Homo sapiens: one gene and its partners. The protein of the gene in region 1 purifies or fractionates together with the protein of each later gene. This does not show direct contact. Each region holds a gene or a part of one and is shown in the gene's direction. Other genes may lie near its edges.

What was found.
Region 2: the proteins of PRELID2 (region 1) and WDR62 purify together in Homo sapiens (affinity purification with mass spectrometry; one large-scale study listed by BioGRID and IntAct). This does not show direct contact.
Region 3: the proteins of PRELID2 (region 1) and KIF11 purify together in Homo sapiens (affinity purification with mass spectrometry; one large-scale study listed by BioGRID and IntAct). This does not show direct contact.
Region 4: the proteins of PRELID2 (region 1) and MLF1 purify together in Homo sapiens (affinity purification with mass spectrometry; one large-scale study listed by BioGRID and IntAct). This does not show direct contact.

What each region holds. Positions count from the first base shown.
Region 1 is NC_000005.10:145,759,031-145,762,350, reverse strand, and holds part of PRELID2 (PRELI domain-containing protein 2), read left to right. Parts: intron 1-1,825; 3' UTR 1,826-3,320.
Region 2 is NC_000019.10:36,089,397-36,092,967, forward strand, and holds part of WDR62 (WD repeat-containing protein 62), read left to right. Parts: intron 1-1,048; coding exon 1,049-1,124; intron 1,125-1,803; coding exon 1,804-1,915; intron 1,916-2,005; coding exon 2,006-2,069; intron 2,070-3,292; coding exon 3,293-3,415; intron 3,416-3,571. UniProt on the Homo sapiens protein: Required for cerebral cortical development. Plays a role in neuronal proliferation and migration.
Region 3 is NC_000010.11:92,599,628-92,603,198, forward strand, and holds part of KIF11 (kinesin-like protein KIF11), read left to right. Parts: intron 1-3,571. UniProt on the Homo sapiens protein: Motor protein required for establishing a bipolar spindle and thus contributing to chromosome congression during mitosis. Required in non-mitotic cells for transport of secretory proteins from the Golgi complex to the cell surface.
Region 4 is NC_000003.12:158,574,139-158,577,709, forward strand, and holds part of MLF1 (myeloid leukemia factor 1), read left to right. Parts: intron 1-3,571. UniProt on the Homo sapiens protein: Involved in lineage commitment of primary hemopoietic progenitors by restricting erythroid formation and enhancing myeloid formation.

The sequences.
Region 1 (3,320 bases):
TGCCCAGGCTGGTGTGTTTTTTATGTTTGTTTGTTTGTGTTTTTGTCCTGTGGTTGAGGGCTAAGCCATGAACTCAGGGCATCGTATTGTTTGTGAAAAGCAACTTACTCTCCTCTCTTAAGTGAAATGGTCGAGGTCTGAATATAACCAGGAGTTTAGTACAGGACAGTTGCATTTAATGCATTCAATGCAATGAAATTTCCTGAAAGATTTATATAATTCCAACTCTCAAAATTCATGACCAGTTTTCTCAGAGGAGTAACTGTAAAGTAGGGGATATATGTATATGTATGTATGTACTCTTACCACATAAATCTACAATTTGATGTTGCATCGAATGCTGCCAGCTTATTCCTTTCCTTTTCTCCCATTTTCTTGACTGTTTTTACAAAGTTTGTCAAGTTTGAAATATGCCTATGTTAATGGAACTTTTTAATTTCTCAGAATTAACTGTATGGAAAATGGAGGGGGTGGTTGTAGGTGGGGGTACTACTGTTTTCATGTGTTGTAAAATGCTACATTAAAAGAAGTGGGGGAAATTAGCTCTATAGCTATAATAAAGTAGAGGTCAGGAAACTACAGCCTGTAAACCAAATTTAGCCGGCTGCCTGCTTTTATACACAAAGTTTTATTGGAACACAACTATGCTTCTAACTATGTTCAAAGCTACAACTGCAGAGTTGAATAGTTATAACAGTGACCTTATAGCTACAAAGCCTATAATATTTACTGTCTGGTCCTTGAAGAAAATTTTTGCCTACTGATTGAGTGTCCTAAATTAACATCAAGGAGTGTTGTGGTGATTGTTTGGCCTTTCAAAATATAGTGTTTGATCACGTCTTACCCCTAAAGTTTATAGTTTGACAGTTTGTTTTTCTTGCATTAGCTCTAACGTCAACACTTTGTGAAGACTTGGCTGATTTTATATTAAGACATAAAAAGGTATTAAAATGATAATAACAGGAAGTTAAAATACCAGCAACAGTGGTCACTAAAATTGCTCATAAAGTTCCAATGCGCGTACACAATGGAGTAGACATATAGGCATTTAGTTTGGCACATAAAGTGGCACTGTGATGAGGCTAGAGGGTAGGTGCTATTTATAATTTACTCAATTTTTTCAGCTTTGGAATTTTGCAATTTTTAATACTTAAAAGACGTTTTGTGGGATTTGCAGAAATCTGCATAAGGAGACAGTATTTAATATTTTTATATCATACCACATTTTAAATTTGCATAATTTAAATTCACATAGAAAGTGACTACGTTCTACACTGTACCTAACATTAAAGATACTTCACAGAACTCTCTGACCTGTATGTCCAAGTGGGCATTTGAAAATGAGAAAGCTTAGAAGGTGATTTTTGTCATGAGCCAAAATGGAGACACATAAATCTCACTAACCAATATGCTTGTGGCATTGCTGTTGACACATCCCTTTGATAGATTTTTGATTTCCTGTCATTTTTGAATAAAACAAATAACCCTGACAGCTGTCTGTTCTTGCCACTGGCAGTTGGGAGATCAGGCTTGGTGAGATTTGACAACATAGCAGAGTTCTATCACACTGGAATGATTAAGACCTCAATTTTAGCTATATCTTAACTCTTCTCTGAACCAGCTCCTTTGGGTAGTTGGACTTAATAAAATGAGGTGCTTGCCTTGTTCGAAGATCATTAGGAGGGAGAAATGCAATTTCAAGAATTATCCGTAGTGATAGAATTCAAGTGGACTCTGAAGAGTTGCTTCAGAAAAGAGGGCAAATAAGTATTGATTGGTGAGACATGTTTATGAGGTGATAAAGCCTGTTTGCTTTCTCTTGCAGGAGAGCTGTATCCATGTCTACTTATTTATTTATTTATTTTTTTTTTGAGAATCACTTCTTGGCCACAGCACATCACAGACACAGTTTCTGGAATACAGGTTTGAGGATACAGTGTTGGCAGCTTCAAGAAGAGAAGACCTTCTTGCCAGGACATAAAATGATACCCTCCTCTGGGAGCCTGCTTCGAATAGTGGGACTCAGGGAGATAAGACCTTCTTGCTGGATTTTTATGACACAATCTCTTTATAATTTTACAAATAAAGGAAAAAAGAACCATGTAAGATATGTGTGCCCTTCCTCAGGGTGTTCTGCTGGTTGTCTGATGATGGTGTCAGGGCAGCTAAGGACAGGATAAAGGCCTGGAGAGGGTGCTTGTGCCCTTATGTTATCAGCACCGTTGTTCCTAGGATTCGTGAGGGGATTCTGGAACCAATAAGGGAGTTGAACTGGTACCTGATTCACGGGTGGACTGGAACAAACAGGAATGTACCAGACCTATGTTGAAGCTAAGCCGTATTTATAACAATGTTTAAGATTCTCAGAAATCAGGAGATTTTTATCCTATCCATAAGTAATATGTAACTGCCATAAGTATAGCTTTTAGAATGTAATATGTAAACTGTGATTTGGTCCTCTGGAAAAAAAAAAATGAAATGAAGAGTGGGAAGGCAGTTTCTTTTCTGCTAATTCGTTCTGTGATGGTGAGCAAGCAAATCATTAACCTCTCTGTTTTTTATTGGGCAAATGGGGATAATCAGGCACAGGTCTTTCCGCCAATGCGTTATGATGATTAAAGAAGGTAATTTTGTGCAGGGTTTTAAGTCAACAGACAGACCTGGGTTTGAATCCAAGTGCTGGCACCTACTTGCTCAGTGATCATGAACACAATTTTAAATCTTTCTGAATCTCATTTAAAAAAATTTGTGAAACAAGATGATAGAATTAATTTTGTGAGATTGTTGGACTGATTTGAGATCATGCCTATGAAGTACCTAGCACACTGCCTAGTACATAGTAGAAGTCCAGGAAATGGAAGCCATTATTATGTAAAACATTTTGCAAAGGTACTTTTTAACTGTAACGTAAAGTGGTACTACTGTTTGAAACTTAGATGGCAGTAGTTTGCATTTCTCGTGATCAGAAGCCAAAATATAAATACATACTACCTAAAAAATCTTGAAGAGAGGTAATAATTTGAAATTCATCTTCTTAAGATAAAAATCAGGGCAGGGTGTGGTGGCTTATGCCTGTAATCCCAGTACTTTGGGAGGCCGAGGCGGGTGGATCACAAGGTCAGGAGTTCGAGACCAGCCTGGCCAATATGGTGAAACCCCGTCTCTACTAAAAATACAAAAAAATTAGCTGGGCGTGGTGGCGCATGCCTGTAATCCTAGCTACTTGGGAGTCTGAGGCAGGAGAATTGCTTGAACTCAGGAGGTGAAGGTTGCAGTAAGCTGAGATTGTGCCACTGCACCCCAGCCTGGGTGACAGAGCA
Region 2 (3,571 bases), on another chromosome or scaffold:
GCTGGGAAGGAATTGAGGGACCCAGCAGGTGTTCCTTCTTGGTTTTTTTTTGTTTTTGTTTTTGAGGCAGAGTCTTGCTCTGTTGCCCATGCTAGAGTGCAGTGGCACCATTTTAGCTCACTGCAACCTCCACCTCCTGGGTTCAAGTGATTCTCCTGCCTCAGCCTCCCAAGTAGCTGGAATTACAGGCGCCTGCCACCATGCCTAGCTAATTTTTTGTATTTTTAGTAGAGACGAGGTTTCGCCATGTTGGCCAGGCTGGTCTCGAACTCCTGACCTCAGGTGATATTGCCCACCTCAGCCTCCCAAAGTGCTGGGATTACAGGCGTGAGCCACCGTGCCCGGCCACCAGCAGGTATTTCTTAGAAGCTGGGCTCTCCCAAGCCTGGCCTCCAGGTCAGCAGAGGGCTTTCTTCTGGCTCTCCCTAGAGCCGGTGTGGGATGACTAAGGTGCTGATGTGGCACATAAACTCCCTCATTCACCCGTATTCCCTGAGCACCTAACTGGGCTGGATGGTGCTGGGATCATGGCAGTGGCCAGGATAGCCCCAGGCCCTCCTTCATGGAGCTCACAGTCCAGTAGAATGGACACGGCCACCTCACAGCCACAGACAGTGACAGAGTGGTCAGAGATGGGGGAGCCCAGGGGCCCTGTGGAGACACCTGACCCCACCTGCGGATCAAGCAGGACTTCCTGGAGGAAGAGACACCTTAGCCTGGGGAGGATGTGGAGGAGCGAGCCAGGGGGAGGCAGAGAGTGAGTGTGCAGAGGGCAAAGCAGTGCAAAGAGGCTCTGCACCCCTTCCCAGTTCTTTCTCATGCGGTGCCAAGCACTGAGCTTGCAGTGTGTGGGGGAGATGAACATTAACTCAGTGGATACCCCAGGACAACCTCAGCTTGAGATGGGGTTTCAGTTTCAGTCTAGGCATCAGATGGGGACAAGAGGTAGCAGGGGGCTTCCAGGGGAGGGGAGGACAGCAAGAGCCAGAGAATGAGGTGGTGGGGTAGGCGGGGCCCTGTTGGCCGCAACATGCCCCTACTTCCCCAGAGTCTACAACACTGTGAACGGGAAGCAGAAGAAGTGCTACAAGGGCTCCCAGGGTGACGAAGGGTCCTTGCTGAAGGTGAGGAGTTGGAGACCCCTGTCTGTCTGCTGCCCTGATGGGCCACCTATTGTGACGGCCCACACCTGAGACCTGTGCCCTTGGTCCTTCCTCAGTGCACCGCGCTGCCCAGCACCTTCTCAGGCCTGGTTAAACAAGGATGCTTGCGAGAGGGTGGGGAGGGTGACCCCAGCTGTGTTTCCTTTATTTACAGAGCCCTTCCCCAAGTGGGGCGTCTAAGTGGGTTCCATTTTGAGTGGCAGCAGGGTATGGTGGGAAGAATCAGAGGCATGAACTCCCCTCCTGGTTTGCCCACACCAGCCACGGGTCACTCAGGACAAGGGGGGACCTTCTCAGAGCCTCTGGTCTAGGACAGTTATGGGTTCAGGTTCTGCCTCAGGCTGACTGTGTGACCTTGGGCAAGCATCATCTCTTGAAATGCACACAGACAGCTTGTCTCATAGACTTGTTCTCTGGAGGAGTTCAGTTTGCACATGTTCAGTGCTTAGCACAGGGCCTGGCTACTGTTGTTACTGCTGCGGTGGTTGTTAATTTCTTCACGTGTCGAATGGGAGCGGGAGCTCCTGCCCTGCCAGAGTCCCATGTGCTGTGCATGCAGCACGGGGGAGGGAGGGGCCCAGGCCTCATCATAAGGAAGAAGCAGGCAGCTGGAGTGACATGTGGGTCCCTTTCCTGGCAGGTCCATGTGGACCCCTCAGGCACCTTCCTGGCCACCAGCTGCTCTGACAAAAGCATCTCAGTGATTGACTTTTACTCGGGCGAGTGCATTGCCAAGATGTTTGGCCATTCAGGTGGGTGTGCCTCTCTGCTTGGGATGCCTCCCCACCCGCCCACACCCTCTGACTCCGAAGGCAAGTGCAGCCTCTCTGCTTTGTTTGCAGAAATTATTACCAGCATGAAGTTCACCTATGACTGTCATCACTTGATCACAGTATCTGGAGACAGGTGGGACATGGACCTTTGGGAGAGTTGTGGCTCAGATACCATGAGCACTGCACTCAGCCTGCCTGTGTAGAGAGCATTTCTAAACTGCCCAGTTTGGATTGTGGGAGTCTTGGTGTCACACCCAGCCCTGAGTTCAAATACCAGCTCTAAGCTGGGCATGATGGCTCACGCCTGTAACCCCAGCACTTTGGGACGCTGAGGCGGGTGGATCACTTGAGCTCAGGAGTTCGAGACCAGCCTGGGCAACATAGCAAAACCCTATCTCTACAAAAAATTAGCCGGGTGTGGTCATGTACACCTCTAGTCCCAGCTACTCAGGAGGGGGAAGATGGCTTGAACCTGGTAGGTAGAGGTTGCAGGGAGCACAGATCATGCCAGTGCATTCCAGCCTTGGTGACAGAGCAAGACCCCGTCTCAAAAAAAAAACAAAACACTAAAAAAACATATCCCAGCTCTGCCATTTATTTTCTTGTCACCTTGAGCAGGTTATTTCCCCTGAGCCTCAGTTTGCTCCCCTGTAAAAGACACCACCGTTTACATTTACCTTAAAAATGGTGTGATGAGGCCGGGCGCAGTGGCTCACGCCTGTGATCCCAGCACTTTGGGAGGCCTAGGTGGATGGATCATCTGAGGTCAGGAGTTCAAGACCAGCCTGGTCAACATGGAGAAACTGTGTCTCTACTAAAAATACAAAAATTAGCTGTGCGTGGTGGCAGGCGCCTGTAGTCCCAGCTACTTGGGAGGCTGAGGCATGAGAATGACCTGAACCTGGGAGGTAGAAGTTGCAGTGAGCTGAGATCGCGTCACTGCACCCTAGCCTGGGTGACAGAGCAAGACTCTCTCAAAAAAAAAAAAAAAAGAAAATTGTATGGTGAGAAATGAATGAGATGATATACATACATTCTTTAGCACATGGGTGGTACTCAAGGAAGTCCCTTTTGTCACTCCCTTTGATTTACCCCAGTTCTTCCCCACAGCCCCCTTCCTCAGGTCTTGAGGCCTCCAGAACAGGCCCTGGTTTGCTGGGATGCCCCAGACCTGGGCCCAGGGTGTGGATGTGGCAAGTCCAGCACCCCTGCACTAAGCGGATAGGGGTGTGTTTTCCAGGAGCATCTGGAGAATGGGGTCCAGGCTGTGGTGTGGGTGGCTTCAGGGTCAGCCACGGCAGCGGCTCCCATGCTTACTCTTCCTCTGCCTTGTGTGTCTCTCTTTGACCTCCGCAGCTGCGTGTTCATCTGGCACCTGGGCCCGGAGATCACCAACTGCATGAAGCAGCACTTGCTGGAGATTGACCACCGGCAGCAGCAGCAGCACACAAATGACAAGAAGCGGAGTGGCCACCCCAGGTCCTGGCAGCCCCTGCCTGTCCACCAGAGGGATGAGTCCCTGCCAGGGCCCCATGGAGTGATGCTGGGGACACAGTGGTGGCCAAGACAGCCCTAGGCCCTGCCCTTAGCACACTCACAGCTGAGTAGGGGAGACAGACTTTGAATATGCAGTTA
Region 3 (3,571 bases), on another chromosome or scaffold:
TGTGTGTGTGTAATTTTAGAGTTTTCTTTTCTTTTTTTTTTTTTGAGATGGAGTCTCGCTTTGTTGCCAGGCTGGAGTGCAGTGGCGCGATCTCGGCTCACTGCAACCTCTACCTCCCAGGTTCAAGCAATTCTCCTGCCTCAGCCTCCCGAGTAGCTGGGACTACAGGCACACGCTACGACGCCCAGCTAATTTTTGTATTTTTAGTAGAGACGGGGTTTCACCATGTTGGCCAGGATGGTCTCGATCTCTTGACCTCGTGATCCACCTGCCTCAGCCTCCCAAAGTTCTGGGATTACAGCCGTGAGCCACTGTGCCTGGCTTTTTTTTTTTTTTAATTAACTATTGAACTTCTGTTTATTATTATTATTATTATTTATTTATTTATTATTTTTTGAGATGAAATCTCGGTCTGTTGCCCAGGCGGGAGTGCAGTGGTGTGATCTCGGCTCACTGCAACCTCCGCCTCCCGGGTTCAAGCAATTCTGTGCCTCAGCCTCCGGAGTAGCTGGGATTATAGGCGCTCGCCACCATGCCCGGCCAATTTTTGTATTTTTAGTAGAGATAGGGTTTCATCATGTTGGTCAGGCTGGTCTTGAACTCCTGACCTCGTGATCCGCCCGCTTCGGCCTCCCAAAGTGTTGGGATTACAGGCGTGAGCCACTGCACTTGGCCTTATTTTTATTATTTTTTTCATCAACTTTTAAGTTCTGGGGTACATGTGCATGATGTGCAGGTTTATCACATAGGTAAACCTGTGCCATCACAGTTTGCTGCACAGATCAACCCATCACCTAGCTATTAAGCCCAGCATCCACTAGCTATTCTTCTTGATGCTCTAGCTCCTTTTGCCCCACTGAATTTTAGGGTTTTCTTTCTTTTCTATTTTTTTTTCTTTTGAGACAGACTCTCGCTCTGTCACCAGGCTGGAGTGCAGTGGCACAATCTTGGCTCATTGCAACCTCTGCCTCCTGGGTTCAAGCGATTCTCCTGCCTCAGCCTCCCGAGTAGCTGGGACTACAGGCATGCGCCCATGCCTAGCTAAGTTTTTGTAGTTTTAGTAGAGACAGGGTTTCACTATGTTGGCAAGGCTGGTCTCAAACTCCTGACCTCAAGTCCCCTTGGGGTTCCTGAAGTACTGGGATTATAGGTGTGAGCCACCACGCCCGGCCAGATTTTCTATATAAAAGATCATATAATCTGCAGACAGATAATTTTACTTTTTCCTTTTCTTTCTTTTTTTCTTTTTTTGAGATGGAGTCTCGCTCTGTCGCCCAGGCTGGAGCGCGGTGGCGCCATCTCTGCTTACTGTTACCTCTGCCTCCTGGGTTCAAGCAGTTCTCTGCCTCAGCCTCCCAAGTAGCTGGGATTACATGCACATGCCACCACGCCCAGCTAATTTTTGTATTTTTAGTAGAGATGGGAGTTCATCATCTTGGCTAGGCTGGTCTTGAACTCCTGACCTCGTGATCCATCCGCCTTGGCCTCCCAAAGTGCTGGGATTACAGGCATGAGCCACCGCTCTTGGCCCTCAACCTTTTCCTTTTCAATTTGGATGCCTTTTATTTTTATTTTTCTTCCTTTTTTTTTTGAGATGGAGTCTCGCTCTGTTGCCCAGGCTGGAATGCAGTGGTGCAATCTCTGCTCACTGCAACCTACGCCTCCTGGGTTCAAACGATTCTCCTGCCTCAGCCTTCCGAGTAGCTTGTACTACAGGCATGTGCCACCATAAACAGCTAATTTTTTTTTTTTCTCGTATTTTTAGTAGAGACGGGGTTTCGCCGTTTTAGCCAGGCTGGTCTCGATCTCCTGACCTCGCGATCCGCCTGCCTCAGCCTTCCAAAGTGCTGGGATTACAGGCGTGAGCCACCATGCCCGGCCCTTGTTTTTCTTTCTTGCCTAATTACTCTAGCTAGAACTTACAGTATTATGTCGAATGGAAGTGGCAAAAGTGGGCATTGGGCATCCTTGTCTTGCTCCTGTTCTTTTATTTGTTAGTTTGTTTGAGATCCTCCTGCCTCAGTTTCCTGAGTAGCTGGGACTATAGACACACTACTACACCCAGCTAATTAAAAAAATAATTTTTTTTTTTTTTTTAGAGATGGGGTCTCGCTATGTTTCCCATGCTGATCCTGAACTCCTGGCTTCGGGTGATCCTCTACTCTTACCCTCCCATAGTGCTGTGATTACAGGCATGAACCACTGTGCTGGCCCTGTTCTTGTTTTTAGAGGAACATTCTTCAGTCTTTGACCATCAATTATGTTTGCTGTGGGTTTTTCATATGTTGCTTTTATTTTGTTGAGGTAGTTTCACTCTATTCCTAGTTTGTTGAGCATTTTTATGACTAATGGGTTTTGAATTTTGTCACATGCTTTTCCTGCATCGATTGACATGATTCTGTGGTTTCCTTCATTCTGTTAATGTGGTATATTACATTGATCAATTTTTACATGTTGGACCATCCCTGTATTCCAGGAATAAATCCCACTTGGTCATGGTGTATAATCCTTGTGCTGCTCAGTTCAATGTGTTGGTATTTTGTTGAGGATTTTTTTTTATCAGTGTTCATAAGGGATAGTGATCTGTAGTTTTCTTGTAGTTGCCTTTGTCTGGCTTTGGTATCAGGGTAATGCTTGCCTCACAAAATGAGTTGGGAAGTGTTCTCTCCTTTGCCAGATTTTTTCTGGGAAAAGATTGAGAAGAACTGGTATTAGATCTTCTTGAAATGTTTTATAGAATTCACCTATGAAACTATCAGATCTAGGGCTTTTCTTTGTCAGGAGATTTTTGGTTAGTGAGTCCATCTCTTTACTGGTTATAGCTCCATTCAGAATTTCCATTTCTTTGTGATTTAGTCTTTGTAAGTATTGTGTTTCTAGGAATTTGTTCAGCTGGGTTATCCGATTTGTTGGCATACAATTGTTGAAAATACTCTTTCAACAATAAGAGAGAAGACACAAATAACTAGTTCTTTTGTTTCCAGTTCCTTAAGTTGTAAAGTTAGGGTGTTGATATGAGATCTTTCTTGCTTTTTAATGTAAGCATTCATAGCTATAAATTTCCCCCTTAGCACTGCTTTTGCTGTGTCCCGTAAGTTTTGGTATGTTGTATTTTCATTTTCATTAATCTCTAAAATTTTCTAATTTTCCTTGTGATGTCTTTGAACCCTGGTTACTTAAACACACACACACACACACGTGTGTGTGTGTGTGTGTGTGTGTGTGTGTGGTTTTTTGTTTGTTTTGAGACTGAGTTTCGCTCTTGTTGCCCAGGCTGGGGTGCAATGGCGCGATCTCGGCTCACTGCAACCTCTGCCTCCCGGTTCAAGCGATTCTCCTGTCTCAGCCTCCAGAGTAGCTGGGATTACAGGCGCCTGCCACCACGCCTGGCTAATTTCACACACACATTTAAAAAATACATCTACCTGCTTTTACTTCAGAATCTTTGCAATTTCTGTTCTCTCTGCCTGAAAATTTTTTCCACCAAAATATCTACAGGGCCTGGCTCCCTTGCTTTTTAGGTTCTGCTTAAATATCACCTGCGTAGAAGCATTCCCTAACTACCCTAAAA
Region 4 (3,571 bases), on another chromosome or scaffold:
GTACTAATTTAAAGCAAAATAACATTAATAAAAAGATAATGAACAGTGGGAAATGAAATGGTTAATATAGAAAAATAAAATGATTAAAATTTTTTTCTGAAGATTATTTATTAAGGCATACATGAACTCAGGCAAATTTATTATGCCATTTTAGTTAACGTGTTTAGGAGCTGTTGGGATATGGACAGTGTTATTTTAACAGGTTTAAATTTTTGTATTATTGTGATTCTCTCTTTTGAAAGCCAGAGGCGAGGCTTGGTGGCTCACGCTTGTAATTCCAGCACTTTGGGAGGCCGAGGTGGGTGGATCACCAGAGGTCAGGAGTTGGAGACCAGCCTGACCAACATGGTGAAACCCCATCTGTACTAAAAAAAAAAAAAAAAAAAAAATACAAAATTAGCCAGGCATGGTGACACACACCTATACTCCCAACTACTTGGGAGGCTGAGACAGGAGAATCACTTGAACCCAGGAGGTGGAGGTTGCAGTGAGCCGAGATTGCGCCATTGCACTCCAACCTGGGCAACAAGAGTGAAACACTGTCTCAAAAAAAAAAAAAAAAAAGAATATTTAGCCAGAGAATATTATTTTGTAAAATCCATAATTTTATTATTTTGTATTACATAAGCTCTGGCTTTCAAGAGAATCACAGTACTACAAATCCATAGATTATTGAGGTGTTGAAGTCATTCATATGTAAATATGACATCATACAATTGGTAACAGCTAAGAAGATTATGATAGACAATTTTCGAGTTGTATTATATCCTTGATTATACCAAAAGTTGTTTTATATCCTTCATTGTTAAGGATTCCATCCTTAACTGTGAATGTGTAATGAGTATAATATGTTCTTTAAAATGTCTAGCAGAAGTGTAATTTAAACTCTTGAGTGATTCTGAGCAGAGGCAATGAATTCAAGAGTCAGGGTCAGAAATAGTAACAGACTACAAATAGTAAGCATACAGAAGAACTCTTCCTCTGTGCTTAGGGTGAAAAGGACCATCAGTTACTCTTTCAGTTATCACTATCTATAGCCTTTTTCAAATGCAAGGAGCCATATCATAAAAATTGAAGGTAAAATTGTTGCAGTTAACTTTTTTTAAGCCTAATCTCCTTTATTCATCACAAAGCTTTTGCATAGACCTTTTAAATATACAAAATAGTGGCCAGAACTCTGCTTACAGACTACCATCTTTCATTACCACCATATTACAGTTAATTTTATAAAATTGATTCACACTTAACAATTTCTTTTCTCCACAATGAATTATATTTAACACACTTTTGGGGATAAGGGAGAAAAAGAATATGAGTTTATGTTTATTTCGGGTAATCTATTTGACCCACCCGTTTTACCTCAACCCCCAAACAAAATGAGTATCCATTTCTTAAGTTAAACATAAAGAATTCATAAAGGTGACAAACTCCTTAATGAATCATCCACTGACCTTAGGAACATAGAGATGTGAAACACATAGCTCATGCCCACTCTCTTTTATATAAATATTATCCCTGTTGCTAACATTGTGGTGGGTGGGTCATAGAGTCAGTAAATGTTGTTTAATGGTGAGTTGGTGTCCTTTATTCTCTTTCTTGTAGTCAATCTGGTATTTAGTTGATTGCTGAAAGTAATTATCATTTGCATTCAACAAATAACATTGTTGATACTGGTATTTTCTAATTAGAACATTACGATTTTCTAAATAGTCCATTAGAGTTGCTTATATTGTTCACAATCAAGGTTATTCAATATAAGCAAACGCTACTGATTTACTAATTATTCAAAAATGGACAAAAATGTATACTTCTTTGATATAAAAATAGAATTACTAGATACTACGATGCTGATAAGGTGCTGTGGTTAAATTGTTAATTGCTTAAAATATTTAAGTAAAAAGTAATTAAAATCTGTAGTTTTGAATTCAAATATATTCAGTTTCAATGTTTACCTTATTATAACAGTGCATCTTAAATGTTTCTTCAGAAAAGTAAAAGGAAATGTTAAAAGTTATATTTTAAAATTTGGTGTTTTATTACATACTTGGGATTTTTAAACTTTGGTATCTCATTATGTCTCAGGGCTGAAGTTATTTCATTGAAAATTTACATTACAGTATATTCAGATATACCTTCTTAAACAATATCTGTTACTTGATTAAAAACACAAAGGTTAAAAGCTAGCACTTCCTGGCATGCAGTTCTCTCAAGAATACTATCTTTCTCTCACATCTGTATTTGCTAACAATATGCATATTGTTAAGTACATATGTATAGACAAGAGGATTTTGAGGTTAAATGGTTTTGGCATCCTGTACCCTAAAAAACATCGATTATGTAGTATGAAAGTTTATAAATATTTAGTACGACCCAGAATTTTCTATTTGATACGAAACAGGAACTGTGAATCTTCTGAGCTACAAAAATGTAATTCTGATCGAGCAAGTCTACAAAGAATAATAACTATGTTACCACTTACCAGCTATTGGAGATAGAAAGCTCAGAAGCAGGCTGGCAAACCTGTCAACCTTAATTTTTTTTTTTTTTTTTTTGAGACGGAGTCTGGCACTGTTGCCCAGGCTGGAGTGCAGTGGTGTGATCTCGCCTCACTGCAACCTCTGCCTCCCAGGTTCAAGTGATTCTCCTGCCTCAGCCTCCTGAGTAGCTGGGATTACAGGCGCACACCACCACACCCGGCTGATTTTTTGTATTTTTAGTAGATACCGGGTTTCACTATGTTGGCCAAACTGGTCTCGAACTCCTGATCTCGTGATATGCTGGCCTCAGCCTCCTAAAGTGCTGGGATACAGGCATGAGCCACCGCACCCAGCCAACCTTAATTTTTAATCATAAATTATTGTTGTCTCTTCTTTAAGCCTCTCAGCTCTCCATATGAGCATCATATATCTGATGACCAGTATTTGGTTAAAGTACTGCATATATTCACAGGATGTTACTTCTTCTATCTCCTTATATGTATAATCTCTATTTTAAAAATTTTTACAAATTTGTATTTATTTTATACTTGGAAGTAGTTGGATTTATTAAAGGACATTGCTTTGTCCTATCCACTGATGGAGTTCAAAGTGAATGTATTCTATGTACAAGATGTGGGTTAACTTTTTTATTGATGGAAAACATTCTCATTGAAGGAAATAAAACCACCTTGTTAAGCTTTTGGAAACAGTATTCAAGGTTACTACTTAAATACTTGTTTAGACGTACAGTCTGAGGTAGAGTCTCTGCCAAATTGTCATAGCTTGGCTCTAGTTAATATTCTGCCACATATACCTCTCATTCTAAACAGTTGATAAAAGTAGCTTGAGAATACTCAGCTAAAATTTAAGTTACTTATTTTCAAGGTCCCACTTTATTCTAAGACCCTGAATACCTACTGTGAAATTACCTAGTATAATTGTTCTTAGGAATATTTTAATATATAAATTTCTTATAAATGAACTTTGCAAATTATAAGATCATATTTGAAAGAATGAGACACTGTAAGCCTTGTGCTGAAAGGATTTCTAAGGTATACTATTCATTTGGGGCATTCTTTGGTTCATGAGGTAAA